Linked DNA regions of Homo sapiens: region 1 is linked to region 2. The links come from fine-mapping of genetic effects on gene expression. A gene starts in region 2. The other region holds a variant in brackets. All regions are shown on one strand. Distances are from middle to middle.

Region 1 (16,539 bases), 57 kb after region 2:
ATTCAACCAAAGCAATATACTCTTACATGATTTCTAGGCCCCATGACCCATGTCTAGAGACATTAATTCCAACCAGTTGTTTGCTTTTAAATGAGTGATTTCATTTTGGGAAACAGGTTTCAAATGAAAATATATACATGGGTAAAATTACTCTGTGCTAGTGTTGTAGTGTTGTCTTATTAATGTTTATGGTCCCACTTGTATATGAAAATGTGGTTATGTTAATTGGATAATGTATATATAAGAAGTTAAAGTATGTAAAGCATAACTTCAGCCACATTTTAGAACACTGTTTAACATTTTTGCAAAACCTCCTTGTAGGAAAAGAGAGCTCTCTACATGAAGATGACTTGCTTTATATTTCAGATTTTATTTTAAAAGCCGTGTCTGTTAAGAAAAAACACAAAAGAACCCAATTCCTGGTTCATAATTCTGTATTCTTACTCACTTTTTCAAGTTACCTATTTTGTTGCATAAACTAATTGTTAACTATTCATGGAACAGCAAACAAATGCCTGTTTAATAAAGAATTTTGACCAAGGCTATAAATGCCATTTACATTATTTTCAGTATTGTTGGTTATATTTAAATTTTCTTCATAATAAAGCACACTTTTATTTTTTAAAAAAGTGTAGACACAAGGTCTCTCTGTGTTGCCCAGACTGGTCTTGAACTCGTGGGCTCAAGCAATCCTCCCCCCTCAGCTTCCTAAAGTGCTAGGATTAGAGGTGTGAGCTACTATGCCTGGCCCTCATTCATATTTCTCTGTTTTGTATGATATTTTATGAAACAGTATTTACCCTGGCTCTATATGATGTACTGTATATATTTTTTAATCCTGTTTTTTTTTGTTTTTTTTTGTTTTGTTTTTTTTGAGATGGAGTCCCGCCCTGTCGCCAGGCTGGAGTGCAGTGGCACAATCCCGGCTCACTGCAACCTCTGCCTCCGGGTTCAAGTGATTCTCCTGCCTCAGCCTCCCGAGTAGCTGGGATTACAGGCGTGCGCCACTACGCCCAGCTAATTTTTGTACTTTTAATAGAGACGGGGTTTCATCATGTTGGCCAGGATGGTCTTGATCTCTTGACCTTGTGATCCGCCCGCCTCGGCCTCCCAAAGTGCTGGGATTACAGGCGTGAGCCACCACGCCCGGCCTAATCCTGTTTTACAAAGAGTTGATGACAATTCTCACTGCATTGACTTCACCATTCACTAATGGGTCAGTTATGACCTACAGTTTGAGATGCACTGAGCTATAGGGAACAGTACTCTCTATTTGATACTGTCTTGTTCTCAAGAATTTAGAAATACAATATGAAAAATCAGAACATGTAAAACTTCAGTCAAAATGACTTTGTTCCAGGATTTAGGATCTTGTAGAGATGATATTAGGGAAAAAAGTGCCCAGAGATATTTGGAGTATCAGTGACTGTGAAGGTACAAATGAACACTAGAGTGAGGGAGGAAATTGCTGTGAGTGCAGGGGGAAGAAAGAAAGAATTGATCTCTGTCCTTCTAGACGGGTAGACATCCATTTCTTGAGTTTAGTTATTAAGGAAGGACAACTATAATCAATATTAGAGGAGAATTACCAAGGTTAAGTATTTTTATGATTGTCAAGTTTCATTACAAATCACTAAGCATCTAAAACCCAAATCATCACTGTGTACAGACATAGTCCTGTAAATACTGTGACAATTTCTGCTTAAGAATATTAGAAAAATGATACTTTGACCTACCAGAGCAGACTTTCAATTTTTTGAAATGCCTTAATCTGTATCACAGTGAAATGGTGACTGTGGAAGGTGCTGTATTTCCACAGGAGTCAAACATAAGCAACAACTACTCATGGTTCATTAATTGATGGAAATGAAAAGTCATGTAGGTAAAGAAATACCACTAATACTATGCTGCTTGGTAGTCTGAAACTCTGTTTGTGTTTTCATATAAATTCAAGCGCCGTAACAGTTTATTTCAGCCAGTATTGGTTGAGAATTTACTCTATGCATGCTATTGTACCTTTTGTTTCTTATTTATTAATTTGCATTTAGCTATCCAGATCACTAATCTAGGATTAAAGAACCAGGCTAGGGAATTTAAATTGATTTATTAGCCAGCATATGTGCGGTGCTTTTAAATTCATATATTATCTCAGTTAATTTCATCCCAAACTTAAGAGCTAGTTATTATTATTATACCTATTTTCCAGGTAAGAAAATAAAAATTTACGTCAAATCAATGTCTCCAAGGGGACATAGCCAATAAATGGCCCTCTAATGCCACAATCCCTCCCACCACAGGATAGCTCGCAGAACAGCCATCTGGATCCCAGGCTGACAGCTGAAGAGCATTCACTTTGTGCCAAGCATTGTTCTAAGCACTTTCATGTACTGATGAAATCCTCACAACACTGAGTTTCCTTATTTCCAACAAGTGATGCATCTGTGGCATCTCACCTCTTGCAGCTAAATCCTTTCAATGCTTAGCTGACCCAGCATGGTACATGACCCTTTCTCCATGGTTTCCTGAAGCCTTATTCACCTATGGTGGAGGCAGTTACAGAGACGTTTCATGAGGTTGATGGCAGGGGCCTGGATTTTAGACATCCCTCATCCTAAAAGTCTCTGCAATGGCCAATCACTGGGAAGGTCTCGCTGGCCAGTTTCTCCGCCACTCCAGCCTTCTCTGTCTCCTTTATTCTTTCTCCAGCACCTCCCGGTCCCTAAGTGTCTTTCAGGCAGAATTTATTTACTTAATTATGAAAGCAATATATTTTGTCTCTCTAGCACCCTGTTCAGCCATGTACAAAAGGCTCTTTGTCAATATGTCTTATCAAAGGTTTAGCTAAAAAGCAAAGACAATTCTATTTCAGAGGAATTCTGCCAACAGCTTTAAGCTAGTATTTCTTTTCCTCCCTCAGTAGCTGATAGTAGTGACGGTTAAAGAGACAGTAAAACCTCGTAGATAAGGTGTTCCCCTGTGTGGCGGGGGGGGGGCATTCTGAAAAACCATCCCAGGCTACTCCTTCTATCATGGAGTTTTTGGTGAATCCTAGAACTGGCACAGTAATTGGGGAATTTATTAGTGTGGATTTTGTTATATGATCATGTCATATGTGCTACTCATTTTCAATTACCATGCAGAGAGAGAATCTCACTTGACAAAGAAGAATGAACAGTCCTTCCTGGAAGAATAGTGATTTTTATACTGTACTTTTATAGGTTTCTTTGGACCAACACTGAACAGTTTTATCCACATTCTTATGTACTCCTACTATGGACTTTCTGTGTTTCCATCTATGCACAAGTATCTTTGGTGGAAGAAATATCTCACACAGGCTCAGCTGGTATGTTGTCCCTTCTTTTAGCTTTTCTCCATGTGGCTTATGGATGGGGAAAGGAAATAGAAATCTTAGAAGTCAGAGGGCTTTTTATGTGTGATGAGGCTGCCCATTTTTTTTCCAAAATTGGCCTTTTAAGAATTAAACTTTTTGTGTTGAAATGCCCTTTGTGCATGCTATTAGCTTATAATGGAAAGTTCCTTGCTTTGAAATGTAGATGATTACTTTTCAAATTAATGTGTAAGTTAAATCCTTTTTGTCTAAATAATTTTAACTGCGACTTTTCCATGAGGAAATCATGGGCAATTTCACATACTAATTTCAAATAAGATTTCTGGATGAGGGGGCTGCTTCAGCAGCTTTGTTTTGTTCCTACATAATTCCAAGAGTCCTAGGAGTTGATTTCTGAATTGATCAAGCTTGGCCGCAGTGTCTGTGTGGCACAGCCTGGCTCGCTCACAGAGATGCCCTCTCTGCCGTCCCCAGGTGCAGTTCGTGCTCACCATCACGCACACCATGAGCGCCGTCGTGAAACCGTGTGGCTTCCCCTTCGGTTGTCTCATCTTCCAGTCATCTTATATGCTAACGTTAGTCATCCTCTTCTTAAATTTTTACGTTCAGGTACGTGGAATGTAAATATTCAGCAGTAAAATGTAATCGATTGGCACTATTTTTTTTTTTTTGGAGACAGAGTTTCGCTCTTATTGCCCAGGCTGGAGTGCAGTGGCATGATCTCAGCTCACTGCAACCTCCGCCTTCTGGGTTCAAGTGATTCTCCTGCCTCAGCCTCTCAAGTAGTTGGGATTAGAGGCCCGGCTAATTGTTGTATTTTTAGTACAGATGGGGTTTCGCCATGTTGGCCAGGCTGGTCTTGAACTCCTGACCTCAGGTGATCTGCCTGCCTTGGCTTCCCAAAGTGCTGGGATTATAGGCGTGAGCCACTATGCCCAGCCTAGATCATGCACTTTTACATTACATATTTGTTTAATTTTACTGATTAAATATTATAGTAGCACATGCTTGTTGATAAATTCAGGTAGCAGATACACAAAGTGAAATTTGCACTCCTAACTCCTCTCTCCACACCCTCCTCCTCAAAGGGTAACCACAGTTAATAATCTAGTGGGCATTTTTAAAAACATTTTTCAATGCATACACATAAGGTTTTATCAAAAATATCATTGGATTATATATACAGTTCTCAATTTGCAGTATGTATTTGTACCATGCTACCAAAGTCTGACATCTGAAAGTTAAAAACGTGTATAGTAAGACAGATCCAGGAAATGTGAATGGAGCAAAGCAAGGGCTTCTTCAATGTTTTTAATTTATTGAATTTCATGTTTAAAAATTGGTTCCTTATCAGCTACCCTGATGTTGCAGCCTCACTGTTTGTTTGGGAACCAGGATGGAAAGGCCGCACCGACGTCTTTATCCAGTGTCATTTTCTTTTTAGTTAACAACTTAAATGGAAGACAGCTTCAAAATGCAGTTTCAAAGCCACTCTGTTGTACAAGAACGGATGAAAGCTATAACAGAGAAGAGGCCTCAGGTGGATGTAGATTTTAAATTGCTCTCTTTTGTAGGCTGGGGAAATGGAAAGCTTAGTTTAAAAAACAAAGTACATTTATATTCAAAACTATACTTTTGAAATTGTATTCAACTGTATTTTTTTCAGACTAATAAGAAGTGCTTTACTTTTTAGTTTGCACTTGCTGAAAGTTAACCCATAGTGGTTTTTATTTTTATTTATTTTTTTGAAACAGAGTTTTGCTCTTATTGCCCAGGCTGGAGTGCAATGGCGCAGTCTCGGCTCAACACAACCTCTGCTTCCTGGGTTCAAGTGATTCTCCTGCCTCAGCCTCCCAAGTAGCTGGGATTACAGGCGTGTGCCACCACGCCTGGCTAATCTTGTATTTTTAGTAGAGATGGGGTTTCTCCATGTTGTTCAGGCTGGTCTTGAACTCCTGACCTCAGGTGATCCGCCCACCTTGGCCTCCCAGAGTGCTGGGATTACAGGTGTGAACCACCACACACATCCCCATAGTGGTTTTATACAGTGTGGAACAGTGGAAACTGAATTTTGACAGCTTTTCAGGTCTTGTATTTCTGAAATTGGACTAGGCTGTTTTAAGAGATAAAGGTTTCCTTTGAAGATTTCCAAAGAAATAATCAATGATGAGACCAAACAAAGCTATGTGTGGGTGTGCAAACCCCTGCCCCCAACTTCCCAATAAACGCTAAGTGTTAAAGGGAAGCTAAGGGAGTGATTTTGGTACCTCGTGTTGAAGAGAAGCGTATAGCCCAGCAAGAGTAGGTAATGGCATTCAAAGCCTTAGCCCTACATGCTGGTTCAAACTGCATCTTAGTTCTGAAGTCAAGCATATAATTTAAGTTTGGATCCTTGTTAATACTATTGCTTTAAAAAAAAAAAAAGTGAAAATGAGATGCGAGATCAGGTATTTTGTCAGAATAGGAAGGATATGCCAAAAACTAGATCAAGCCAGAATCCCAGGTATTGGTATTTTAAAATAACAGCACTTTTTCCACTTGAATTATTTTTAAAAGTTTTATCTTTCCAAGTGAGCAACTAATGCAGAATACTTTGCCAGCCCCACAATATACAAATCGTGACCTCTAATAGTCATTGAAATACATGCATTTGTTTTGGTCTTTATTTTTAATCTTTAACCAGAAGTTTAAAAATGATACTATAAACATGAAATCTAGGCAGAAATAAAGAAAGATGTTCTTTGAAACCAATAAGAACAAAGATACAACATACCAGAATCTTTGGGACACATTCAAAGCAGTGTGTAGAGGGAAATTTATAGTACTAAATGCCCACAAGAGAAAGCAGGAAAGATCCAAAATTGACACCCTAACATCACAATGAAAAGAACTAGAAGAGCAAGAGCAAACACATTCAAAAGCTAGCAGAAGGCAAGAAATAACTAAAATCAGAGCAGAACTGAAGGAAATAGAGACACAAAAAACCCTTCAAAAAATCAATGAATCCAGGAGCTGGTTTTTTGAAAGGATCAACAAAATTGATAGACTGCTAGCAAGACTAATAAAGAAGAAAAGAGAGAAGAATCAAATAGATGCAATAAAAAATGATAAAGGGATATCACCACCGATCCCACAGAAATACAAACTACCATCAGAGAATACTACAAACACCTCTATGCAAATAAACTGGAAAATCTAGAAGAAATGGATGAATTCCTCGACACATACACCCTCCCAAGACTAAACCAGGAAGAAGCTGAATCTCTGAATAGACCAGTAACAGGCTCTGAAATTGTGGAAATAATCAATAGCTTACCAACCAAAAAGAGTCCAGGACCAGATGGATTCACAGCCGAATTCTACCAGAGGTACAAGGAGGAACTGGTACCATTCCTTCTGAAACCATTCCAATCAACAGAAAAAGAGGGAATCCTCCCTAACTCATTTTATGAGGCCAGCATCATCATGATACCAAAGCCAGGCAGAGACACAACCAAAAAAGAGAATTTTAGACCAATATCCTTGATGAACATTGATGCAAAAATCCTCAATAAAATACTGGCAAACCGAATCCAGCAGCACATCAAAAAGCTTATCCACCATGACCAAGTGGGCTTCATCCCTGGGATGCAAGGCTGGTTCAATATATGCAAATCAATAAATGTAATCCAGCATATAAACAGAACCAAAGACAAAAACCACATGATTATCTCAATAGATGCAGAAAAGGCCTTTGACAAAATTCAACAACCCTTCATGCTAAAAACTCTCAGTAAATTAGGTATTGATGGGACGTATCTCAAAATAATAAGAGCTGTCTATGACAAACCCACAGCCAATATCATACTGAATGGGCAAAAACTGGAAGCATTCCCTTTGAAAACTGGCACAAGACAGGGATGCCCTCTCTCACCACTCTTATTCAACACAGTGTTGGAAGTTCTGGCCAGGGCAATTAGGCAGGAGAAGGAAATAAAGGGTATTCAATTAGGAAAAGAGGAAGTCAAACTGTCCCTGTTTGCAGGTGACATGATTGTATATCTAGAAAACCCCATGTCTCAGCCCAAAATCTCCTTAAGCTGATAAGCAACTTCAGCAAAGTCTCAGGATACAAAATCAATGTACAAAAAATCACAAGCATTCTTATACACCAATAACAGACAAACAGAGAGCCAAATCATGAGTGAACTCCCATTCACAATTGCTTCAAAGAGAATAAGATACCTAGGAATCCAACTTACAAGGGATGTGAAGGACCTCTTCAAGGAGAACTACAAAACACTGCTCAATGAAATAAAAAAGGATACAAACAAATGGAAGAACATTCCATGCTCATGGGTAGGAAGAATCAATATCGTGAAAATGGCCATACTGCCCAAGGTAATTTATAGATTCAATGCCATCCCCATCAAGCTACCAATGACTTTCTTCACAGAATTGGAAAAAACTACTTTAAAGTTCATATGGCACCAAAAAAGAGCCTGCATCGCCAAGTCAATCCTAAGCCAAAAGAACAAAGTTGGAGGCATCACGCTACCTGACTTCAAACTATACTACAAGGCTACAGTAACCAAAACAGCATGGTACTGTTACCAAAACAGAGATATAGATCAATGGAACAGAACAGAGCCCTCAGAAATAATGCTGCGTATCTACAACTATCTGATCTTTGACAAACCTGAGAAAAACAAGCAATGGGGAAAGGATTCCCTATTTAATAAATGGTGCTGGGAAAACTGGCTAGCCATATGTAGAAAGCTGAAACTGGATCCTTCCTTACACCTTATACAAAAATTACTTCAAGATGGATTAAAGACTTAAACGTTAGACCTAAAACCATAAAAACCTAGGCATTACCATTCAGGACATAGGCATGGGCAAGGACTTCATGTCCAAAACACCAAAAGCAATGGCAACAAAAGCCAAAATTGACAAATGGGATCTAATTAAACTAAAGAACTTCTGCACAGCAAAAGAAACGACCATCAGAGTGAACAGGCAACCTACAGAATGGGAGAAAATTTTCACAACCTACTCATCTGACAAAGGGCTAATATCCAGAATCTACAATGAACTCAAACAAATTTACAAGAAAAAAACAACCCCATCAAAAAGTGGGCGAAAGACATGAACAGACACTTCTCAAAAGAAGACATTTATGCAGCCAAAAAAACACATGAAAAAATGCTCACCATCACTGGCCATCAGAGAAATACAAATCCAAACCACAATGAGATAACATCTCACACCAGTTAGAATGGCAGTCATTAAAAAGTCAGGAAACAACAGGTGCTGGAGAGGATGTGGAGAAATAGGAACACTTTTACACTGTTGGTGTTTACACTGTAAACTAGTTCAACCCTTGTGGAAGTCAGTGTGGCGATTCCTCAGGGATCTAGAACTAGAAATACCATTTGACCCAGCCATCCCATCACTGGGTATATACCCAAAGGACTATAAATCATGCTGCTATAAAGACACATGCACACGTATGTTTACTGCAGCACTATTCACAATAGCAAAGACTTGGAACCAACCCAAATGTCCAACAATGATAGACTGGATTAAGAAAATATGGCACATATACACCATGGAATACTATGCAGCCATAAAAAATGATGAGTTCATGTCCTTTGTAGGGACATGGATGAAATTGGAAATCATCATTCTCAGTAAACTATCGCAAGAACAAAAAACCAAACACCGCATGTTCTCACTCATAGGTGGGAATTGAACAATGAGAACACATGGACACAGGAAGGGGAACATCACATTCTGGGGACTGTTGTGGGGTGGGGGGAGGGGGGAGGGATAGCTTTAGGAGATATACCTAATGCTAAATGACGAGTTAATGGGTGCAGCACACCAGCATGGCACATGTATACATATGTAACTAACCTGCACATTGTGCACATGTTCCCTAAAACTTAAAGTATAATAATAATAAAAAATATAATATATAAACATGAAATCTTATTAGAAAATCCAGTGCCCAACTGGGCACAGTGGCTCACGCCTGTAATCTTAGTACTTTGGGAGGCCGAGGCGGGTGGATCATCTGAGGTCAGGAGTTCAAGACAAGCCTGGGCAACATGGTGAAACCCCATCTCTACTAAAAATACATAAATTAGCCGGGCATGGTGGTGTGCACCTGTAGTCCCAGCTACTTGGGAGGCTGAGGCAGGAGAATCACTTGAACCCGGGAGGCGGAGGTCGCAGTGAACGGGGATCGTGCCATTGCACTCCAGCCTGGGTGACAGATTGAAACTCTGCCTCAAAAAGACAAAAACAGAAAATCCTGCGCCCAACAAAATCACATACTGTTTTAACTATATGCACTGTTAAAGACAAGGTCTTATTAAATAACCTTTTTATTTTTCTCTTCAAAATATACACATCCAACAGACATACCGAAAAAAGCCAATGAAGAAAGATATGCAAGAGCCACCTGCAGGGAAAGAAGTGAAGAATGGTTTTTCCAAAGCCTACTTCACTGCAGCAAATGGAGTGATGAACAAGAAAGCACAATAAAAATGAGTAACAGAAAAAGCACATATACTAGCCTAACAGATT[G/C]GCTTGTTTTAAAGCAAAGACTGAATTGAAGGTTACATGTTTTAGGATAAACTAATTTCTTTTGAGTTCATAAATCATTTGTACCCAGAATGTATTAATATATTGCTATTAGGTTAATCTGTTAACTGAATGCTTTGATCAGCATTGAGGTGATGCTCACCTCCGAGGACCTCAGAACTGGTGCAGCTTCTCTCTCCCTCCCTCCCACAGACTGAACCTTTCGCCAGAAGCTGTCCTTATAACGCCTTATACGCATACACAGCCAGGAAACGTGGAGCATTGTTTCTCACAGAGAGTCTCCAAATAAAAAGGGTTTTGTTCAGATTAAAATGTTTACAACAAAATGTTAATTATATTCTAAATACAGGGTATGTTCTAATCTATATTAAGCAATAATGCCAGTGCATAATCATTCCATTTGTTCCTTTAGCAATCAACCCCAGAAAATATTAAAATGGGATCATACACAGAAGATAGAAAAATCTAGCAAAACTTCTCTTTCTGTAAGCCAGAGTCTTGTCTATCAGATTCCCACAACCACTCCTGATTCTAAATTTAGTGATATGGTAATGAAATTGGTATTTATTTTAAATATTAGTTATTCTAAGGAGAAAAAAATGCTTCTGCAAGATTTTCATAATTCAGGGGCTGTGGATAGGATTGTTCCTCTGTTTCCCTAATCATTCATCTGTTCATGTCTCCCTCTTGTGCCAGTCAGCCTAGGTTATACAGATGCCATGCTCCACACCACGAGCAGTGTACAAATCTGGCTGCCCGTTTACTTTCTGAGCAAGCACTGGAGTCCACTCCGACCTTTTTCTTTGAACATGCATGCTGCTGGAATATGTATAAATCAGAACTAGCAGAAGTAGCAGAGTGATGGGAGCAAAATAGGCACTGAATTCGTCAACTCTTTTTTGTGAGCCTACTTGTGAATATTACCTCAGATACCTGTTGTCACTCTTCACAGGTTATTTAAGTTTTTGAAGCTGGGAGGAAAAAGATGGAGTAGCTTGGAAAGATTCCAGCACTGAGCCGTGGGCCGGTCATGAGCCACGATAAAAAATGCCAGTTTGGCAAACTCAGCACTCCTGTTCCCTGCTCAGGTATATGCGATCTCTACCGAGAAGCAAGCACAAAAGTAGACAAAAGTATTAATGAGTATTTCCTTTCTCCATAAGTGCAGGACTGTTACTCACTACTAAACTCTACCAAGAATGGAAACAAAGAATATTTTCTGAAGATTTTTTTGAAGATTAATTTATACCCTATAAAATAAAACTTGTTAGCTTCGATGAAGTCACTTCATCTTCTCTCCTGCCTTATTTTTTTAAATAAGTTTTTAGGTCCTGACACTGACATCAAATACATGCACACCAGAAAGGCATTTCCACCACCGTCCCCACTCATTAGCGTCCAGAGTGCCTTTCTCTCTCGGCTTTTTTTCCCCCCTGAGCTCTAGTTTTAAACTTTCTCCTGTTAAAAAAATTGTACTTTTATTTCATGTAAACTGCCCCTCTGAGGATTTGGGCATATTTTTTGGAAGGTGCCTAATGCTTAGGATAGTCTCTAGGGTGATGCACTGCACCTGCTTCCTTCCCTTCAGTGCGGCCGACCCATTTCTGTTGAACAGATGTCTCCTGTGTGATGCCCCTGACTCTTACATTTATCTTTCTAAATCATTTTCTGAAGCTGACTTGCTCTAGGGTGCTTCATCACCACTTCCATCTTGCATCACCTTATAACTGTTCTGTCTTGTTCTCTCCCAGCAATTTATTTTAAAACAAGGGCTAGCTTCAAGCATGACTGTTAATGGCTCCTCTGTGACAAAACACAAGTTGGACCAAGGAGAAAGCCCTTTGGAGAAACTGGACCCTAGTTCAGTTTAGATCTCAAATATAGGCTGAAATCTCTTACCAAAGTGCGTTCCAGATAAAAATGAGACTTAGAAGACAGACTGGTCTAATATGCTCACTGGTCATCACATTCAGCTTATTCTTACGTGCCAGTGAGGCCCTAAGGTCTCAGTGCATAGCATACCTGCCACTCTGGATGTTTTCCTGGGCTTCATATCTGTATGGCAAGGAGGGAGCTGTCCTTCAGCAGACAAAGTCAAGCAGCTTTAAGTACAAGGCAGCTTGAAACCTCTCTGATGAAAGTGAAAAATGTGGGTAGCTTATACTTTCAAACTAATGCCAGTGACTAGAGAGAGGTTTCATTCATGATGTGTATTTCCAATTTGGTCTTCAATTCAAGAGATGCTTCATAAAACACTTATAGCCTTAAACCATTCAAGGGCTAATTAAAAAAATAGTTATGAAATCTTAGCCACAAAAAATAAATCAGGTAAACATTTTAACCTGTCGTTAAGTGTTGTAACTTCAAAAAACCAAAATGCTTATTTTAATGTGATTTTTCTAAAACTATTGAAAAATTAATATTTCTATAATCTATTAAAAAAAATGGAGAATGTTTTCTCTCAAATTTCCTCTGACCCATGGGAATGAAAATACTTAAATACTGTAAAGCATATCTATTAATAATTCCCCCAATTTTTTAAACTAACAAAATGGAATGTTAACTGAATGGAATTAAACATAGCAATTGTCAAGCCATCAAAATTATATATCGAACCACTTAGGCATGTTACGGGGTAAAGTCCTCACCCCTGCATTTGAGAAATATTTTATTATTTTTATTTTAAGGCAAAACAGTGTTTACTGTGATGGGCAGAACAGCCTTTTGTATCTAGGAGTCCATTTGAGTTCTTTCCAATATTTCCATATCGTTCATAAATGTGTCTGGGGGCTTCCTTGTTTGGAAAATATGGATATCGCTTTGTTTTCCTTTGAAAGTAATTATATCTTAAGAACATAGTATCATGAATGGAGTAGACAGGGAGGCTGCAGAAGCCATTTCTCTTTGTAGATAAAAAGCATTATCTATGATTGTTGTATAATAAATTGATTTTTACATTAAATGCATGTTGCGAGTTTTATTTGGTTCAAAGCAGTTAAAATGTATGCCTGCATGGAATTCCAAATGACCTATCACTTGGGAGTTATTTTTACAATAAGGCATTATTTTAGCCATGAATTTTAGACATTTAATTCTTCTCTTGTTTCAGTGAGCAATGGATTATATCATTACCTTTACATTGTATTCATATACCAAGTTAAGCTGTTTCAAAAATGGCCATTCACTAGAAAAACGTAAGATTAGCAGAGGATATAAAGACGATAATTAATAAATTGCTATATAAAGCCACCTAGGGAGGAGCACTAGATTTGTTTGAGGAGAAATTTTTAGGCAGGAACGACATCGTGCAATGCCCTGAAACCCAGGATACAATTCACAGAGCACCTGCATGGGGAGAGAGGTGGTCAGCTCAGCTCGGGAGGAGATGTAGGTGAGTGAGGCCTGACTGTGAGGATGCCTGGGAGAGTTGAGGCGAGGGGCAGGACCACAGGTTGGCGTTTTGTCAGTGTAGAGAGTCGAGTTTTGAATGTGATATTAAGTATAATGAGACACAGATCCTAAAGAAAACTACAAAAGATGTGCTCAAAGTCTGATTAAAAAATTGCTTAAATTCCTGGATAGTGACAGGTGGGACAGGATAGATTTTAAGGAAGGGCAGGAGGAGAAGAGGGAATAGGAGAAGACCTTATTTTAGCTATCTGAATGGGGGCTAGAGTTTGGGGTGGGAGGTTAACGTTTTAGAGGAGCCTTCCCTTTGTTATTTTAAATGGTGGGTGGAACTTAATAAAACTTTGTGTTTAAAAATAAAAGATAAATCCTATGTCTCTATGGCAAGCCTAATAACTGTTGTCACAAACTTAAAGAGCTGCTTATTCAACAAGCGTTCACATCAATAAGCCTCTTAATTCCTTTATGCAAAGAAAAAATTCAGCATGTGTTTTTGTTACAGCAGGCTCTCTTCCAAGAAAAATTACATTCCCATATTTAAGGAAGAGTTTCTCTCCAGAGTATGCAAGGAAATAATCACTCCTAGGAGACTAACTACAGTCACCTCAGGATTCCCTGACCTTCAGTAAAACATGACTTTCAGTCATAGGGGGAAAAAGACTGAAAGCTATTGATTTGTAGGTCATTTTTCCATCTTCAATTGCACTGCAGAACACTGGAATAACACTGAGAGGACAAGGAAATCTGTAATCCGTACCCTCATTGAGCAATTGGTAAATGCGGTCATTGTGGATCTAACGAGCAACCCACCGGGAGCCTGTTCTGAAAGTGTCTGTGACCACATTTGGTAGGCTGAGGAAGGCGAAGCTTGTCACACATCCCTTGATGTTGCATGTGCCATGGTCTATAGCTACCTGGATGACTTGAGATGGGCATTTTCTCTTGTAGTTGCCACAATCACCATCACTCATCCTTTTTCTTTTTCTTTTTTTTGAGACAAGAGTCTCACTTTGTTGCCCAGGCTGGAATGCAATGGTGTGATCTCAGCTCACTGCAACCTCTGCCTCAGCCTCCCAAGTAGCTGGGATTACAGGCATGTGCCACCACTCCCGGCTAATTTTTTTTTTTTTTTTTCAATAAAGACAGGGTTTTGCCATGTTGGCCAGGCTGGTCTCGAACTCCTGACCTCAGGTGATCTGCCCACCTCAGCCTCCCAAAGTGCTAGGATTACAGGTGTGAGCCACGGCACCCGGCCCATTCATCCTTTTTATTCAGCCTATTAACCTGGCTGGCCCCTGAAGGCATTTGAATTTGTGATGCCTATACATTGAACAACAAAAGGAGAAAGTCTATATAGAGTTTCGCCTGGGCCCATATGATATACTTACAGGGAGATGAACACAGACTTACCGGCAGTGGCCCTAGAAACAAATGATAGATGTTGCAGATTTCTCTGAGACTGAAGCACTGTACGTAAGACAGCTCATGTAGAACCAGCTCCTATTCTTTTCAAGCTAGTTTAGACCTATGGAGTTTGATAAACTCTGGAAATAGTTATATTCAGTCTAAAAATTCATCAAATCTTGTCCAGCACTACGTATCGTGTTAGGGATATAGAATGATCTAGATGAAATATCTGTCCTCAGAGTTCATAGTCTAATAAAGTAGATAAACATTTAGCTATAAAATAAGTATTGAGGCCGGGCACAGTGGCGCACGCCTGTAATCCCAGCACTGTGGGAGACCAAGATGGGCAGATCACCTGAGGTCAGGAGTTCGAGACCAGCCTGGCCAACATGGTGAATTCTCGTCTCTACCAAAACTACAAAAATTAGCCAGGCGTGGTGGCCATGCCTGTAATCCCAGTTACTTGGCAGGCTGAGGCAGGAGAATCACTTGAACCTGGGAGGCAGAGGTTGCAGTGAGCCGAGATCACGCCACTGCACTCTAGCCTGGGCAACAGAGTAAGACTCCCTCTCAAAAAAAAAAAAAAAAAAAAAAAAAAAATATATATATATATATATATATATATATTGCCAGAGAAACATTCCTAAAGGAAGTAATGCCTGAGGTTAGTTTTGACGGGTGAAGAGTTCAAATAGACTTCAAAGAAAGTGGTGTCCCAGAAGCCAAGGAAAAAGAGAATATTTAAACAGAGAAAAACGCTGCAAGGCAGCAAGGTGAGCAACTAGTGAAGGCGTGGGGGGGGAAGGCACTGAATTTGGCCCTTGGGAGGCAGTTGGCAGATTACAGGGGGCTTTAGAATGAATGGGAAGTCGAAGAAAAACAATGATGAAGCAAGCCATATGAAAATCCTTCTGAAGAACTAGGGATGTGAAGGAACAGTTACAGTAGTTGCTGAAAGGGAGGAAGAGCTAAGGGGTGTATGTGTTGAATACTTTCAGGAGCATCTGAGTGACTGCAGCTGAGATGGAGGAGGAGGAAGCAGTAAGAAAGAAGCCGGCCCCTTGCTCAGCTCATGGGGCTGGGGCAGGGGATGCTTCAGGTGCCTTTGTCACCACAGGGAAAAATGCCCACAACAACATGCTGGCGAGACTGCAGAGAAAAGGGAATGCGTATACCCTGTTGGTGGGAATGTAAATGAGTTCAGCCCCTGTGGAGAGCAGTTTGGAGATTTCTCAAAGAACGAAAACCTGAATTACCATTCAACCCAGCAATCCCACTACTGGGTATCATCTACCCAAAGGAAAATAAATTGTTCTACCAAAAAGATACCTGCATTTGTATGTTTATCCAGCACTATCCACAATAGCAAAGACACAGAATCAACCCAGGTGCCCATCAACAGTGGATTGGATAAAGAAAATGTGGTATATATACACCATGGAATACTACACAGCCATAAAAAAGAATGAAATCATATCCTTTGCAGTGACATGGAAGCAGCTGGAGGCCATTATCCTAAGCAAATTAATGCAGGGGCAGAAAACCAAATACCGCATGTTCTCACTTATATGTGGGAGCTAAACCTTGAGTGCACATGGACATAAAAGGGGAACAATTGACACTGGGGACTCCAAAAGGCAGGGGTGGGGGAATTGAAAACCTTCCTATTGGGTACTATGCTCACTATCTGGGTGACAGGGTCAACAGAAGCCTAAACCTCAGCATCACACAATATACCCTTTAACAAACCTACACATACACCCCCGAATCTAAAATTTAAAAAG
Region 2 (16,539 bases):
AAGTAATGGCCCCCATTAGATTTTTTAAACTAGGATAACTGCAGCTGACCAGTAAACATCACATAAAAATGTTCTGCCAGGACCCGGATTCCTTAGGACTGAGGTCCTCAAAGGCATAGCAACAGAGCAGGGACCAGTGGCCATGGTGTCAACAAACACATGGATCTCTATCTATAGGATTTGGTCTGCATCCTCACTACAATCCCTGATGATTCACACTTTCCAGACACACTGGCTAACTTCCTGTTCCTCAAAGAAGCCTGATTTTTCTGTCTCGAAGTGTTTCCATTTGCTATCTTCTCCTGGAAGGATTTCCCCTAGATCTTCTCATGGCTTCATGGCTGGCTTGTTTTCATCAATGGATCTCAATTTAGATATTATGTGCTTAGAGGGGCCTTTCCTGACCATCCTATTTAGAGTGTTCTCCCCAAGGAAAGGACACCTACTTCAATAAAGGGTGCAGGAGAAACTGGATAACCATATGTCAGAGAATGAAACTGGACTCCTACCTCTCACCATGTACAAAAATTAACCAAGATGGATTAAAGACCTAAGTGTAAGACCTGAAACTTCAAAAATCCTAGAAGAAAACCTGGGAAAAAACTCTTTTAAAAGACACTGGCCTAGGCAAATAATTTATGACCAAGTCCTCAAAAGCAAACACAACAAAAACAAAAAATAGACAAATGGGACTTAATTAAACTAAAAGGCTTCTGCACTGCAAAAGAAATAACCAACAGATTAAACAGACAACCTACAAAATAGAAAAACAATTTGCAAACTATGCATCTGACAAAGGGCAAATATATAGAATCTACAAGGAAATCAAATAGCTCAAGAAGAAAAAACCAAATAATCCCATTTTAAAATGGACAGAAAATATGAACAGACTTTTTTTTTTTTTTTTGAGACAGAGTCTCACACTGCCACCCAGGCTGAAGTGCAATGGTGCAATCTCAGCTCACTGCAACCTCTACCTTCCAGGTTCACGTGATTTTCTTGCCTCAGCCTCCCAAGTAGCTAGGATTACAGGTGCACACCACAACACCCGGCTAATTTTTTGTCTTTTTAGTACAGACAGGGTTTCACTATGTTGGCCAGACTGGTCTCAAACTCCTGACCTCGTGATCCGCCCGCCTTGGCCTCCCAAAGTGCTGGGATCACAGGCATGAGCCACTACGCCCAGCCAACATTTTTCAAAAGAAGACATACGAGTGGCCACCAAACATGAAAAATGCCCAATATCACTAATCATCAGAGAAATGCATTTTAAAACCACAATGAGACATCATCTTACACCAGTCAGAATGGCCATTATTAAAAAGTCAAAAAACAACAGATTGGCAAAGATGTAGAGAAGGAAATGCTTATACATTGTTGGCGGGAATGTAAATTAGTACAGCCTTTATGGAAAACAGTATGGAGATTTCTCAAAGAACTAAAAATAGAACTACTATTTGATCCCTTAATCCCACTACTGGGTATATACCCAAAGGGAAAGAAATAATTATATCAAAAAGATACCTGCACTTGTATGTTCATCATAGCACTAATCATAATAGCAAAGATATGGGATCAACCTAAGTGTCCATCAATGGAGGACTAGATTAAGAAAATGTGTACACATACATGCACATACATACACACACCGTGGAATACCAGTCAGTCATAGAGAATGAAATCATGTGATTTGCGGCAACGTGGATGGCACTGGTGACTTTAACAGGTTGAAAAATTAGGAGGGTTGAAAAATTACCTATCAGGTAGTATACTATTTAGTGATGGGTACACTAAAAGCCCAGACTTCACCAATATGCGATATATGCATATAAGAAATCACACACCAAAATCTGTCGGGGTTGGGGGGTGATGGAAGGGAGAACATTAGAACAAATACCTACCTAATGCATGCGGGGCTTAAAATCTAGATGACGGGTTGAAGGGGCAGCAAACCACCATGGCACACGTATGCCTATTAACAAACCTGCACATTCTGCACATGTATCCCAGAACTTAAAGTAAAATAAAAAATTATAATAATAATTAAAAAAGAAATCTGTACTTGTATGCATTAAATATATAAAAATTAAAATACATAAAAAACTTAAAAAGCAAAAACCTAGAAAAATAAAGTGCTACCCCCAAGTCACTCTATCATCATACTGTTTCTTCATGACATTTCTCTATCTAGACTTATTGTCTTCTTCCTCTCGTTGAAATATGAGCTTCATAAAACAAGGGAAGTCACCTATATTGTTCCATACCATATTAATATCATCCAAGTTCTACAGAAATTGGCACTTTTTCTTGTAAAGGGCCAAATAGTAGCTATGTGGGGACTTGCAGACCATACAGTTGTGTCACAACTCTGCTGTCCTAACATGAGAGCACCCACAGACAATACGTAAACATAAGGACACAGTGGTATTCTAATACAAACTTTATTTACAAAAGCAGGCAACTGGCTGGATTTGTCCTGCCACTGTAGTTTGCCATCCTCTGCTCTAGAATGTTATACTAGAATATAGTACTCAGCATAATATTTTCAAATGAATTAACATAAACTTTATTTTAAACCTGGATTGATACAAGGTCATGATTGTCTCCTTGTTACTACATCCAATCAAATGACCAATATATACATATATTGCTTTGTCATAAATCCTTAGTCCTAACATATCGAGTGAAAGCTGCACTAAATTTGATGGAGGGAACTCAGTTTTTTCAATGTGCCTTCACTTGGGCTTAATCTTTACTCTTTATCTTACTATTTTTCATTTCTAAACTCATATAGGTGCAGAGCTTTCTTAACACAAAGCAGAGCCCATGGCCAAGGAAAGGACGTGATTTCCAGAGTCTGTTTCTACTACTACCCTAAAAGTACAAATACTTTGAAGAAATGTAGTAAACTGATTTAAAGTCATAATACATTGTAAGTGAGTATTTTTCTCAAGATAAAACACAAAGATGCTAGGTATATCAAAAGAAGGGATGCTTCAGAAGAGAACCACACTAAAAGGAGATTAAACTCCCCCCAAAACAAAGCTTGCCTACTTCATAATTTTGATGAGGGCTGGCAGACTAGCACTGCAGAGGCAGTAGAGACAATGAGAATACTCACCCAGGATTCAGGAGATCCAGGCTTTAGCACTGTCATCTATTAATCGGTCTTCTCTAACTCCTCTGAGACACACTTTCTGAACCTATAAAATCTACGATATGTGACAGAGGGAGAGAAAGAGCATCAGTCAGATCTCTATTTTTAGGTTTAAGATTCTTAGATTATGCTAATCATCACTTTATATAGCACCACATCCATGTAAGTACCTAACACACAATTAGTCTATGTTATTGTACACATGCTCAATATGGGCTTGCCGTACAGCTAAGAAACAGAGTCCAGCTTTTGTGTAATCCATACAAGAGAACAACGAAAGTAAATATTATAAAATCATGTAAGTGATGGCATGTTAAATTTTCCATTAAGTGGGAATTCATGTTATACCCAGTTAAGACCCTCTCCCAGTTATATCTGGTTAAGATATGTTTCCAGTCCTGTGTTTATACAGGTAGAACCACTTCCTTTTTTAAAAAAATTAATTAATTTATTTATTTTTGAGATGGAGTCTTGCCCTGTCACCCAGGCTGGAGTGCAATGGCGCTATCTCGGCTCACTGCAAGCTCCGCCTCCTGGGTTCAAACAATTCTCTTGCCTCAGCCTCCCAAGTAGCTGGGATTACAGGTGCCCGCCACCACGCCCAGCTAATTTTCATATTTTTAGTAGAGACGGGGTTTCACCATGTTGGCCAGGCTGGCCTCAAACTCCTGACCTTGTGATCCACCTGCCTCGGCCTCCCAAAGTGCTGGGATTACAGGCATAAGCCACCGCACCTGGCCACCACTTCCTTTTTCTATTTAATAAAATATTGGTGGGGAAAAAGACCCTCTGGCATTTGCCGTCTCATTTGTTCCTTTGTTGTAGTGATAAGGAAAGCCATAAAATAATATTTTAAGAAACAGATAAGATATAGATGACTTTTTAGATCTCCTTCTGGCCTTATGGGTTGATGTGTATTTTTAGAGAATAAAGGTAAAATAATGATTATCAGGCTAAATGGTAATGTGGAAGTATAGGGATAATTCAAAGTTTAAGAATTCCTTCCCCATGTTTACCTGGTGTGCTTTGCAAGGTTTAGATGACATCAATGATACAATTTTTGCAAGCAACAGCCGCAGGGTTCTTAGAGGTCGGTTGTCACTTAAAATTGTTTTTTCCCTTCATGTTGTTAGAAAAATAGACTAAAGCTTTCCCTGAATGGATAATGGAATTTAGTTTCTCAAAATATCATCCATGGACTGCCTGGCTGCACCAGTATCATTTGTGGTGCTTGTTCAAAATTCATATTCCTTAGAAATGGAGGTTTCACCACTTCAAGACCCATAGAGAGTCCATTATACTTTATGCAGGGTCAGAGATGCCTCTGGAATGAAGTAGATACTCCCGCAATGTGAAACTGATAGCAAATATTAAACCCAAAGCAAAACCAAAAAAAAATTCATATTCTTGGTCTGTACCTGAGGTCATCTTGATGGATCTCAAGTATCCCTGTATAGTATTAAACCCTCTGGTGCTACTTATACACAATAATGTCAAAAAATCACTATCTAGATTAAGAATTCACATTATACTGCATCAGATTAGTGATACAGTGAAATTCAGGTCCAGAGTTTTTATCATTCAATATCCAAAAGACGTGGAAGCTACTTTTATAGCTTTCAAATATAACACGTATCAAATAGAAGAAAGAACACAGGTAAAACAGAAAGAATAAAATCATTCCAAGGAAAAACAATATTTGGGGACTATTCGTGTGAATTTCCTTCAAGTCTCTCAATATCATAATATAGATCATCACAGGTTCTAAAAACTCCTAACAGCAGGGACTGTGTTTTTCTTCATCACTGTAACCCTAGCTGTTACCAAAACGCCTAGCACATAGTAGGCACTGAAATCTTTGCTGAGTGAACAAAGTAAGTGAAGCTGAAATCAAATTGTATCTTTGATTTGGGCCACACTTTTTTATAAAAATATGCCAGCATTAAATAGAATATCACTTTCTGATTCTCAAATGCATCAAATTGATAACAAATCAATAACTAGTACTTTTGTACCAGATATTTTTCTAGAGTTTTACCCATATTAATTTAACCCTAACAGCTACATGTAATGTTAAGTGCTATTTTATCCCAAATTCGTAAATCAGGAAACTGGAGCATAGACAGTTTAGGTAACCAACCCAATACCACACACCCAGTATGTGGCAGAGCTGACTCCTGAGATTTTTATCAGACTAGGTTAACCTGTTTATGGTCATAAAATCATCCGCCTTTTATAAACAAATATATGCCTAATATTTACCACTTCAGCTACAGAAATTCTATATTAGGAAGAAAAACTCTCTATTAGGAAACTATATATTAGGTGATTGTATGACAGTTAAGATTTAGCCCCGGTACCTACAGTTACTCACTCTGCTACTGCACAAAACTCTGCAAGGGCTCCCACACCGCCCCAGGTGTGGGATGCTAAGTGTATGGTGCAGGTACCTCCGTGCACAGCCACACGGGCTGCTCTCAACCCCAATAAACATGTTTACCACATGAGCCTCACATGTGGTAAACATTTTTTTTTTTTTTTTTTTTTTTTGAGACAGGGTCTCATTCTGTCGCCCAGGCTGGAGTGCAGTGGCGTGATCTCGGCTCACTGCAGCCTCCACCTCCAGGGCTCAAGCCATCCTTCACCTCAGCCTCCCGAGTGGCTGGGATCACAGGCGCAGGCCACCACACCCAGCTAATTTTTGTATTTTTTATTTAAGAGGCGGGGTTTCGCCATGTTGCCCAGGCTGGTCCCGAACTCCTGACCTCAAGTGATTCGCCTGCCTCAGCCTCCCAAAGTGCTGGGATTACAGGAGGGAACCACCACGCCCGCCAACTTCCCATGCTTGAGGGAGAAATGGAAGAAAGTTCATGTAATACTCAGGCAAGTCCAATTTTTTCGACGTCTTTCACTTGGGCCACACACACAACTAAAGTAACTAGAAGCGCAGGCTCTAGGAGGCCACCGTTCTGTTCACAGTGAAGAGGGTGCGCTCACCGTTGGTCGTGTCCGCTGGAAGCCCCGCGTCAGGCCGGGAGCGGGACAGAGACTCTTGCTCAGGGCCGTTATCCGAACTGATCCGCTTCCCACCGCACCCCCAGAGAAACCCACCCAACCCCCTAAACCTAAGAAACCCAGACTGCGCAAACCTGCAGGAACAGAGCCATTTCCCCCTAATGTGTGCTTCAAACCCACCGAAGCCCAACTGTAAGCAAGACCAGCGTGCCCGCCCTGCACGATACTGCTTCTCCCCGCAGCAGCGGCTGCCGATCTGGGCAGCGGGTGGGTATTCCTGGGGCTCCGTGGACGTTGAGCCGCCGCGCGAAACCGGCGCCGGCTGGACCTGCAAATCGCCGCCCGGCCGGCAGGGGACGCCGCGGACGCGAGGGCGAGGTCGGTCGCCCAGGAGGGGGCGCGCGAGGCCGCAGGGGCGGGGGGCGCCGCCTCACTTGCCCTGCGCCCCTCCCCCGCGCGCCCTCCTGGCGCGGCGGCCGGCGAGGCCCCTGTGGGAGAGGGGGCGGGGACGAAACGGCCCCGAGGCTCGGAGCGCCGCGCGGCGGCGGCGCGAGCCCGAGGGGGCGGGGAGGCGCGGGCGGGTGTGCGCGCGCCGGGCGTGGGTGTGGGTGGGGGTAACCGGCGCGGGCGCCGAGATAGCGCCGGGCAGAGGGACCCGGCTACCCTGGACAGCGCATCGCCGCCCGCCCGGGTCGCCGCGCCACAGCCGCTGCGGATCATGGTGAGTGGGGCCGCGCGCCGCCACCGACACCGCCGCGCTTTCTTTCTCTCCTGGACCCACGCACCGGGCGGGAAAGGGCCGAGCGGGCGCCGGCGCGGGCGCTGCGGGTTCGCCGCTGGAACCCGCTACCCTCGGAGGGGCCGGGTCCGCGCGGGCCTGGGGAGCGGGAGCTGAGCGTTTGGGCCGGGGGCGCGCGGGTCGGCCCGAGGCCCGCGGGTCTCGGGAACTTTGTCTCGGTCCCCTCTCCCCGGTCCCGCCCCGGCACCTCGAGGCGCCCGCTCGCGCCCAGTCCCCTGTTGCATGCACGGGGCCGGGCGCCCGGGATGCCCGAGGAAGCCGCCCCTCCTTCGCGGCGGCCATTCCCGCGCGCAGCCCACCCTCCGACCCTCCGGACCCCCGAACCTGCTCTCGCCACCGCCCGCCGACGCCTGGAGCGGAGAACGGCGTTTCCCGCGCGCGGCACACACCCTGCCTCGGGAGTTCTGGGGTTCGGGCCCTAACGGTCAAGCTCTTGCCCCTCTCCTCCCTTCACCGCGCCTGCACCCCGGGGGTGTGTCTGTGCACTCGTGGGTGCCTCCTGGGTTTGCAGATTGGCTTGGGAAGCGGCTGGGTTTCTATCAGTGTCTGGGCTCGGAGGGGCTTCTGGTGTGTTCTTTCCGACAACTCCTCTCTCTGCCCGATTTCCCAGGCCAGTCCTCCACTCTGGATTAGTAACGCTTCTTTCTCCTCGGCAGTAAGCTGTGTGTGTGTGTGTGTGTGTTCACCCGTGTCCGATGAACTGCCTGACAGTAAGCTGTGTGTGTGTGTGTGTGTGTGTGTGTGTTCACCCGTGTCCGATGAACTGCCTGACAGTTTTAGTAGCAGAGCCTGGTTCTTTGGTTACAAAGGGAGAACATCTGTTGTGCCATCCTCAAAGGACTGGTCTTTAGGCAAAATGTGAAATCCGCGTTTGTCTTCAGTGGTCCATATTCAGTGTTTGCCTCACCCCCTTCCCGTAGGGTTTTCTCTCCACTTCAGGACTTGTTAAAATAAGCGCACTTCCTTTCTCTTCCCCACTCCATCTGATTTTGCTCTGGCTACCCTTTTAGGCACGTACCATCTGCCTGATTATGTGTGACCACTTAATCTTAAAATTCCAACCTTTCCTACCCCGCCCACCACAGTGTATATTCCCCTTGCCTGCTTCATTTGTCTTCTCTTGAGCATGTATTAGTTAGCGTACTGCATATTTTGTTTCTTTAGCTTGTTTCTTGAACGTCTCCTCTACCAGAATATAGGTTTCAGGAAGACACAGATTTTTGTCATTTCGTTCATTGCTTGCTAGATTTCTAGTACCTACAGCAGTGCCTGGCGCACAGTAGGTACTTGATAACTCTTTTGAATTAACCCAATAAAGCAAGCTGCTTTATGTTAATGCACAGGTGGGGAGTAACTGCAAAGATTATGCAGTTGACATTTGTAATGATGAGAGTCTCAAGTGAAGTTTGGGAGGAGGGAGATACTCCCGACAGGAGGGACCCGATTTTGGCAGCCTTCAATGACGAGTCTAGGCGGCTATCTCTTATGCCTTGTCTGTCGCTTCATGCTCTTTGCACCTTGGCATCAGAGTGGACAAAGCATTTTTAGGACCAACTGGCTCTCCTTTTGGGCTCTGAAGCTTTGTCCTAAAGTATAGGTAGGAATTGTAGTGAGTAAGGGAATAAGTCCAAGGAAATCTCTTTAGCTGAATAGGAAAGTCATGGGAATGTTAACCTAAAAGAGCTAAAATCAAGGGCAAGCTCTTGAAAGCTTTATCCTGCCCAAGTGTGATGCTTCCTGTTTAGATAAGTATTTCTCAGAAACTGTGGGTCTTCAGAGGAATTTTTTTTTAATACCCAAATCCAAATTGTATTACTTTTTTCTTCTTTCTTTTTTTGTGGCAGGGTCTCACTCTGTCACCCAGGCTGGCATGCAGTGATGCAATCTTGGCTCACTGCAACCTCCACCTCCTGGGCTCAAGTGATTCTCGTGCCTCAGCCTCCTGAGTAGCTGGGATTACAGGCGCACGTCACCACACCAGGCCAATCTGTGTATTTTTGGTAGAGACAGAGTTTCACCATGTTGTCCAGTTTGGTCTCTAACTCCTGACCTCAAGTGATCAACACCCACCTCGGCTTCCCAAAGTGCTGGAATTACAAGGCATGAGCCACCATGCCCGGCTGAAATCGTATTACTTTAAAAAAAAAATGGGCAGGGAGTAGGAAAGTTAGGGGGTTGAATTTATAAATAACTTAGTGGGTCAGTTCAGAGAGACATCCTTTTCAATACATGTCCAATATGAACTGTCTTGTAAGATATCTCTGCTAGTTAGTCTTATTATTCCAAAATAAATATTTTTTCTTTCAAATTTCCTTTTGTTTTTCTATAATGTGGATTTATGGCATTGGTTTTTTAAAAATTAGTCTGGAGAAATGTATTAATTGGAAACAAATTGTTTAATAAAATTTACATAAGTTTTTGAAAATTATGTAATTATAGCTATGACTATGTAAGTTCAGCAGTTCTGTGGTTACCATCTTTCCCAGGTAGGTAGTAGAAATTAAAGGTAAAAAGGAAAGAAATATAAGTTTGTCTTTGAAATTAAAACCAATGAACCAACCAAAGATGAATGAAAGATACCTTATTGACTTAAGTTTCTATTTGTAGGATATTTTACTGTTAGGATTCCTAGGATTCCAAAGTATCCAGCCTTTTTCTCTTTCGATTCTTCGAACGTATAGCATTTTCAAGGAGTAAAAAATCAATTTTTAAAGTATCCAGTTGGGTAAGCCTAATTTTTGGTTCTTCAACAAGGGTTCCATTTAATCTAGTTTCCTTCAAAACGTTTTAGTCAGTTTGGGAGGTTCAGGTGCTTTCATGTTCCGAAAGAGAATGTTGAAAATGTGTCAAGTAGATATTATGTATCTAGTTATGTTCAGAAAACAGGGCCCTGCTATTCAGGGTTAGGTGGATGATCGTCTGGGTTGGACAGTTGGATATGTATCATCTAACTTGACAGGTTTGCATTTCTGGGAGTAGACATTGATAAGGGGAAAGAAGTTGCACCAGAAACTTCTTTAATGGCCCAATGTGGTGAAAATACGCCAGCATCAGTAGCTCATAGTAATTCTACAGTTACAGATTCACGCATTTGTAGCTTTTCTTCTTAATTGAATTGGGACATAACTGACTTTGACAATGAACAATTCTAATAAATAGTTAATTTATGACATTTTAAATCTAACCATTTAATAATTGGAGAGCATAACTTGTTCTGAAATTTATGTGACAGTTTAGAACCTGAGATCTGAGGTCATTCGTGGGCTTGAATCCTGACACCAGCATTTAACTGTGTGACCTTGGGCTTCAGTATTTTATCCTGTAAAAGATGATAATATTTCATAAGGTTTTCGGGAGGAACAAATATGATGGTGCCCTTTATGTGTCTAAAACAGTGCTTGGAGTGCTTAGTAAATATTAACTATTATAATGATGTGTGTTCTTTTTTCTCCCATATCTATTTTAGTTGAGACACTTCAGAATGATGTCTCTGTCCCTTTTGTGGTCTTAATATACAACTAATATTGCTGTCCAATAGAAATATAACATAAATCGCATATGTAATTTTCAGTTTTCTACTAATCATATTTAAAAAGTACAGAGACAAGTGAAATTAGTTTTAATAATGTTATTTAACCCAATCCATGCAAATATTTCAACATGTAATCAATGCAGAAAAAGATTTTTCCATTGTTTTTTTTCATAGAAAATCTTCAAAATCTAGTGTGTATTTTATGCTTAGAGTGCATCTCAGTTCAGGCTAGCCGTATTTCAGCGGCTCAGTGGCCACCTGTGGTTAGAGGCTACCGTATTGGACAAAGAGCTCTAGATTGTACACAACTTCCAAGTTTACCTCTTAAAGCTCTTACACCCTTTCCACTAGTGAGAACCTCACTGCCACCTTAAACCCAGCATTACAAAAAGAAAGCTACTCATCTTTCAGACTCTCTTCTCTGTTCTCTTTTGCTGTTAGTAATTCCACCAGCTCTTCAGTCTACTGTGTCTGAAATCTGATTCTTATTCTCTTTTTTATTTTATATTGTTTGTTGTCTAATATTCTCATATTTTTACTTGAAAATATTTCAAAATCTCTTTCCTCCACCCCTTGAGCCCCCTTTCCACCATTTTTGCCTTTTCTACAGATCTCCTCTTTTGTAGACTCTTTGTTTTAACTTTTTTACTTCCTGTCTCTTGGAAAATGTATATCTCTCGCTGAATCACTGGGCTCCACATTCTCTCCATTCCTTCCTCAGCCCTTTTTCATGTTGTCAGAAATGGTTTCTATTTTATAGGTTATTCCTACCCTTAATACCTTTCCTTTGTCAAATATCCAGAGAAGTATAATTACTTTCACAGATAGTCTGATAGTAAAATGATCCACTCAAGAAAAGAAGCACAGATAAAGGAGAAAAATAAGCTAGGGGAAGGGAAGATGAAATCATTCTTTGAGTTTTATTTTCCTTTCAGGAAATATCAGAGGGAATCGATTCTAGTAGTCTGTAGTACAGTAGAGAAATTATATGACTATTTATTTTATGTTTCAAAATAGCTAGATGAGAATTGTAATATTTCTAACATAAGAAAAGATAAATGTTTGAAGTGATAGATATTCCAGTTACCCTAACTTGATCATTACATTGTATACATGTACCAAAACATCACATGTACCCTGGGAATATGTACAACTATGATGCATAAATTAAAAAATAGTAACAGAGAAATATCATGGAACTGATTAATAATCACAATCACCACCACCACCACAATAGCAATGAAACTTGATGTTTATGCAGTGCTTTCTAAGAAACAGGGCACCTTCCTGTGTGCCTGGTGAACAGAGGGAGAAAACGAAAGGCACTGGACCAAGAGTCAAGAAACCTGGGTTCTAGCCCTAGCTTTATTGTTTACTAGCTCCATTCCCTTGCTTAAGTTGCTTTGAGACACTGTTTACTCACTTGCTAAATGGTGTATTATCTCTGTCACAAGATTGTTTTGTTAGAATCAAATGGGGCCTCAGCATCTTTACATTGGCTGCCCTTTGGCTGTATACATCTTTCCCCCAGAGAGCTTTATGTCTGTCTGCTTAATACTTTCATGATTAGACCTACCCTAACCACTCTACTAAAACTGGAACCTGCCTTACCATATGTCACACACCATATTCACACACACAGTTGGATATGTACCACACCTGATCCTCTTACACTGCTTTATTTTTTTTCCACAGCACTTAAAACTAGCAGTTTGCTAATTTACATAGCACTTGGAACCATTTAATCATTAATCTCTTGATAAATTTAAAATTATTTAATTATCACAATTCAGTTTGAGCATGTTTCAGTAATACAGCTGCTTCATCAATACACATTTGCCTGTGTAACCTTTTAGTAAATGATAATATGTATTCCTACAGCATATTTACACTTCATAGTCATATTTGTGGAAAGGGCCAGGTTATGTCATTTTTAAATAATTTAATCCATATTTCATCATAAGTTTTTAATGAAATTAAAATGCATATGTATTTCTATTTTTAGATAAATCTATACTTATAGCATTAAGTTCTTGCTGAAATTAAAAATGATTATCTTAAAATATAAACAAAGCTATGATATATGGATTTGCTGAGTAATTTTATTTTTATTTTTATTTATTTATTTATTTATTTTTGAGCTGGAGTCTTGCCCCATCACCAGGCTGGAGTGCAGTAGCGCAATCTTGGCTCACTGCAACCTCTGACTCCAGGGTTCAAGCGATTCTCCTGCCTCAGCCTCCCGAGTAGCTGGGACTACAGGCGCACACCATGCTGAATAAATAATTATTTTTACTTTACATATATGTGTGGCCTTTAGTTAGCATAACTTAAATATGATTCAAGTACTGTATAATAATACTATTTTACATTTATTAATCAGTTGAATGTTTTTCAATGCATTTTAATCCACCTTAACTCTTTCTGAAGCCTCACAAAAAAACTTTTGTGAGAGGCAAGTCCTGTAGCAACATACCTACTTTACAGTTTCAAAGAAGATAAATAATTTGCCCAAGGTCACATACTAGAGGTAGCAAAACCAGCTCTAAATATTCTCAATCCAAAATAACCACCTCTTCTGCTATTCCATATAGCCTTAGCCTTTGAGAAAGGCAGTAGTACTTTTCCCCATTATTACATATGAAAATGGAAAAATCAGAGTGACTTCCCCATGTAGTTTCTTTCCCATAAATTACAGGGATGGATAGATAGATATGGATATATACATATATTGCATATATACACTTAAACATATTAAATATATAAAGTCTTAAGTTTCATTTCATATATACAGAAAATGGAACCTGCAAAGGAAAATATTATTTGAAATGGAGGTGATTGTGAACAACATCCATATGTACTTATCAAACTTAATCCACTGACTAATATAATTTAAGGGGAACAAAGCTTTCTTTTGGATAAAATGGTACACAGACATAGAAGAACATTGAGTGGCCTGAGTGACTTGAGGGCTCACTGCCTATAAATGAGCAGTACTGAGCATGTGGCTGGTACAGTGCTCCCTTATAGTAGTAATTTTCAAGAGAAGTAAGGCCATCACTTTTTTTTTTTTTTTTTAGTAGAACGAGTGTAGTATTCAAACATTAATCAGAACAGCAGTAGCTTTACACAAAAATTTTGATATCATATATGGTATTTACTATTTGGTTTTATTTCCAATACTTTAAAGATTTAAATCTGTTGAATTTTCCACGTGACTAAGCAGAATTTGGTTAATGAGATCTTGGAGTTTAACATGCATTATGACAATGGGGAGGAGCCTTTTTTTTCTTTGGCAGGGTCAAAGAGCTCATTGACCATTACACTGAGGAGTTAGATTAAAAGTTAACTCATGCCGTCTCTCTCTCCCTCTCTGCCTCCTCTGTCTCTCTCCTCCTCTGCCTCTCTTTCCCTCTCTGCCTCTCTCTTTCCCTCTCTGCCTCTCTTGTCTCTTTCCCTCTCTGCCTCTCTGTCTCTCTCTCCCTCTCTGTCTCTCTCCTTCTCTGCCTCTTTCCCTCTCTACCTCTCTGTCTCTTTCCCTCTCTGCCTCTCTATCTCTTTCCCTCTCTGCCTCTCTTCCTCTGTCTCTCTCTCCCTCTCTGTCTCTCTCTCCCTCTCTGCCTCCTCTGTCTCTCTCTCCCCATCTCTCTTCCCCTCTCCTTCTCTCTCTCCTCTCCATCTCTCTCCCTCCTCAAAAAAAAAAAAATTAACTCATGCTTTGAAAGAAGAAAACAGAATATGTCCATAAGGCAAAAGTAAAATTAGGCTATTTTCAATTTTCCTGAAAATTCAGTTCTGAACAACTGATGTTCTATTTTGTCTCTGGAAGGTCTATGCAGAGTGTTCTCCAAGGCATGCTGGGACAAACAGGAAGCCAATACCTTGATCCTTTCTGCTCCCATTCTAGAAGCTTTCCTGAAATTGTTACAGGGAAGACATTCTCTTGGATCTGTAGCTTCCTTGACTTTTGGAAATGCAGATTTCATGACTGTTCTAATGTCAGTGGTGAATTTATGCTGAAGAGCGTGCTTTGGGATGTCAGAAAAATACTCAGTTGGCTGTGCTTTCCTCCGGGGCAACGCAGTCGAAATGGTACATGTGGGCTATTTCACATCTCAATCTCCAGAGCCCAGGGAATTGTTATTCCTTTGTAAGGAAGAGAATGCCCCCTTTCCTTTGGCCTTTTCTGTGTTCAGACTCCTAAAAAAAATGGCATATATCACAAGTCATTTTGAGATTTACTGCCTGAAGTCTGCATCAAACTCAAGAATACAAAGCAACCACACTGGCTTCACTATATTTTGGAAGCCATGTTTCTCTGTTAAAAAATAGCAGGATTATGACATCAAAGCTTTTAAAGTCCTGCCACTGCTACTAAAATGCTATCATGTTCCTTTTGTAAATTAGGTTTACTATCTCATAAATGACTTTCTGTTTACAATTTTAAAAGTAAGCAGAAACACCCTATTTTAATACCTTTCGTAACACTAATCTCATCAGTACTTGCTTCGTGTAAGACAGAACATATGTCTGTAACAGTCTTAAGTCCTTAGTGTAAACTTTGGAATTAATATTTTGCATTTGTTCTCCTTTTGAAGGAAAGAAATATGCTCTCTACGTTGAATACATATTCTTTAAAATTGCTCTCGAGACATGCAAATACATTGCCTCAGTCATTTTTTTGATTAGATACACTCATTGTTCATTCATTCAGCACGTGCTCAGTACTGCTCAATTAGAGGCAGTGTGTAAGCACTGTCAATTTAAATATAAAAGACAGCCCCTGCTTCATGAAATCTGTAGTACAAAAAGAGATTCTTTTGTCTCTTCCAGTGCAAGCATACTTCACAAGTCAGCAGTGTTTGGACCACTCAGTCCAGTAAATGTGCCTCCGTGTCCATGTGCCATTCCATCCAATAGAAAGACTTAGTCTAATAATGCGACTAGTAATATTATGACAAAAAAATCTAGACCCTACAGCATAGGTAACTTTTATTCTTTATCATGGCAAGAATGTGTTCAGGACCAAGAGGTGGCTGGTAGCTAAAGAGCCAACATCACTGGGATTAATAAAGCTGAGATCAAGACTATGTCTGTGTGACACCACAGTACTCAGCAGTCAATTCAGTGAGAGGAGAAAATGATGAAACCGATTGTGTGAAAGGATGGATAGAAGGAGCATGGACCTAGGAATCTGACAGATATATTTAAATGCACATTCCTAGGCTACGTGAGGTCGGACCTACAGAATGAGAATCTCTGAGGAGGGGCCTAGGGATCTGTATACCAACAATCAAGTGCACACAAATTTGAAATCTTACGCTCTAGGGGTCCAAATGAATGGGAAGAACTTCTAGCAAAATCGTTTTGTGTATGCTTCATGAAGGGGTTGGATTTTGGTATGTAGGGAAGGAAGGAATGTAGTGTAGAACAGAACAGTCTATTTAGGAGAAATAACTGGGTGAAGGCCCCAGAAAGTAGTAACACAAATATATTTATGGAACACTATACTCTGAGCAATTTATGGACAAGGCTGTTTTCACAGAGCCTAGCACAGATTAGGTGCTCAGTAAGTGTTTTTAATTATTATTTTATTTATTTATTTATTTATTTAGAGACAAGAGTCTTGCTTTGTCACCCAGGCTAGAGTGCAGTGGTGTGATTTCGGCTCACTGCAACCTCCATCTCCTGGATTCAAGTGATTCTCCTGCCTCAGCCTCCAGAGTAGCTGGGATTACAGGCGCATGCCACCACGCTTGGCTAATTTTTGTATTTTTGGTAGAGACTGGGTTTCACCATGTTGGCCAGGTTGGTTTCGAACTCCGGACCTCAGGTGATCCACCCGCCTCGGCCTCCCAAAGTGCTGGGATTACAGGCCTGAGCCACCACATTTAGCCCTAATAAGTGCTTTTTGTTATTTATTTATTTATTTATTGAGAAAAAGTCTCACTCTGTCACCCAGGCTGGAGTGCAGTGGCGCAATCTCAGCTCACTGCAACCTCTGCCTCCTGAGTTTGAGTGATTCTCCTGCCTCAG

The links.
Region 1: its variant is fine-mapped to the expression of ELOVL2-AS1 in spinal cord (GTEx, PIP 0.92).

Annotation. Positions count from the first base shown.
Region 1 is chr6:10,977,122-10,993,660 of GRCh38, reverse strand. ELOVL2 (ELOVL fatty acid elongase 2) reads left to right here. Exons shown (of 8, transcript NM_017770.4): 6 at 3,219-3,343; 7 at 3,824-3,958; 8 at 9,755-12,902. The coding sequence ends at 9,880. Among named protein-coding and RNA genes, the nearest start is that of ELOVL2-AS1, 58 kb to the left of the region's middle. The variant G/C (reference allele first, on the strand shown) is at 9,923.
Region 2 is chr6:11,034,582-11,051,120 of GRCh38, reverse strand. It overlaps ELOVL2-AS1 (ELOVL2 antisense RNA 1), which reads right to left and starts at 7,363. Exons shown (of 5, transcript NR_038964.1): 1 at 7,296-7,363; 2 at 3,122-3,212; 3 at 1,902-2,012. It overlaps ELOVL2 (ELOVL fatty acid elongase 2), which reads left to right and starts at 6,816. Exons shown (of 8, transcript NM_017770.4): 1 at 6,816-6,893. The coding sequence starts at 6,891. RefSeq lists enhancers at 5,285-5,785, 5,786-6,286 and a silencer at 6,721-6,920.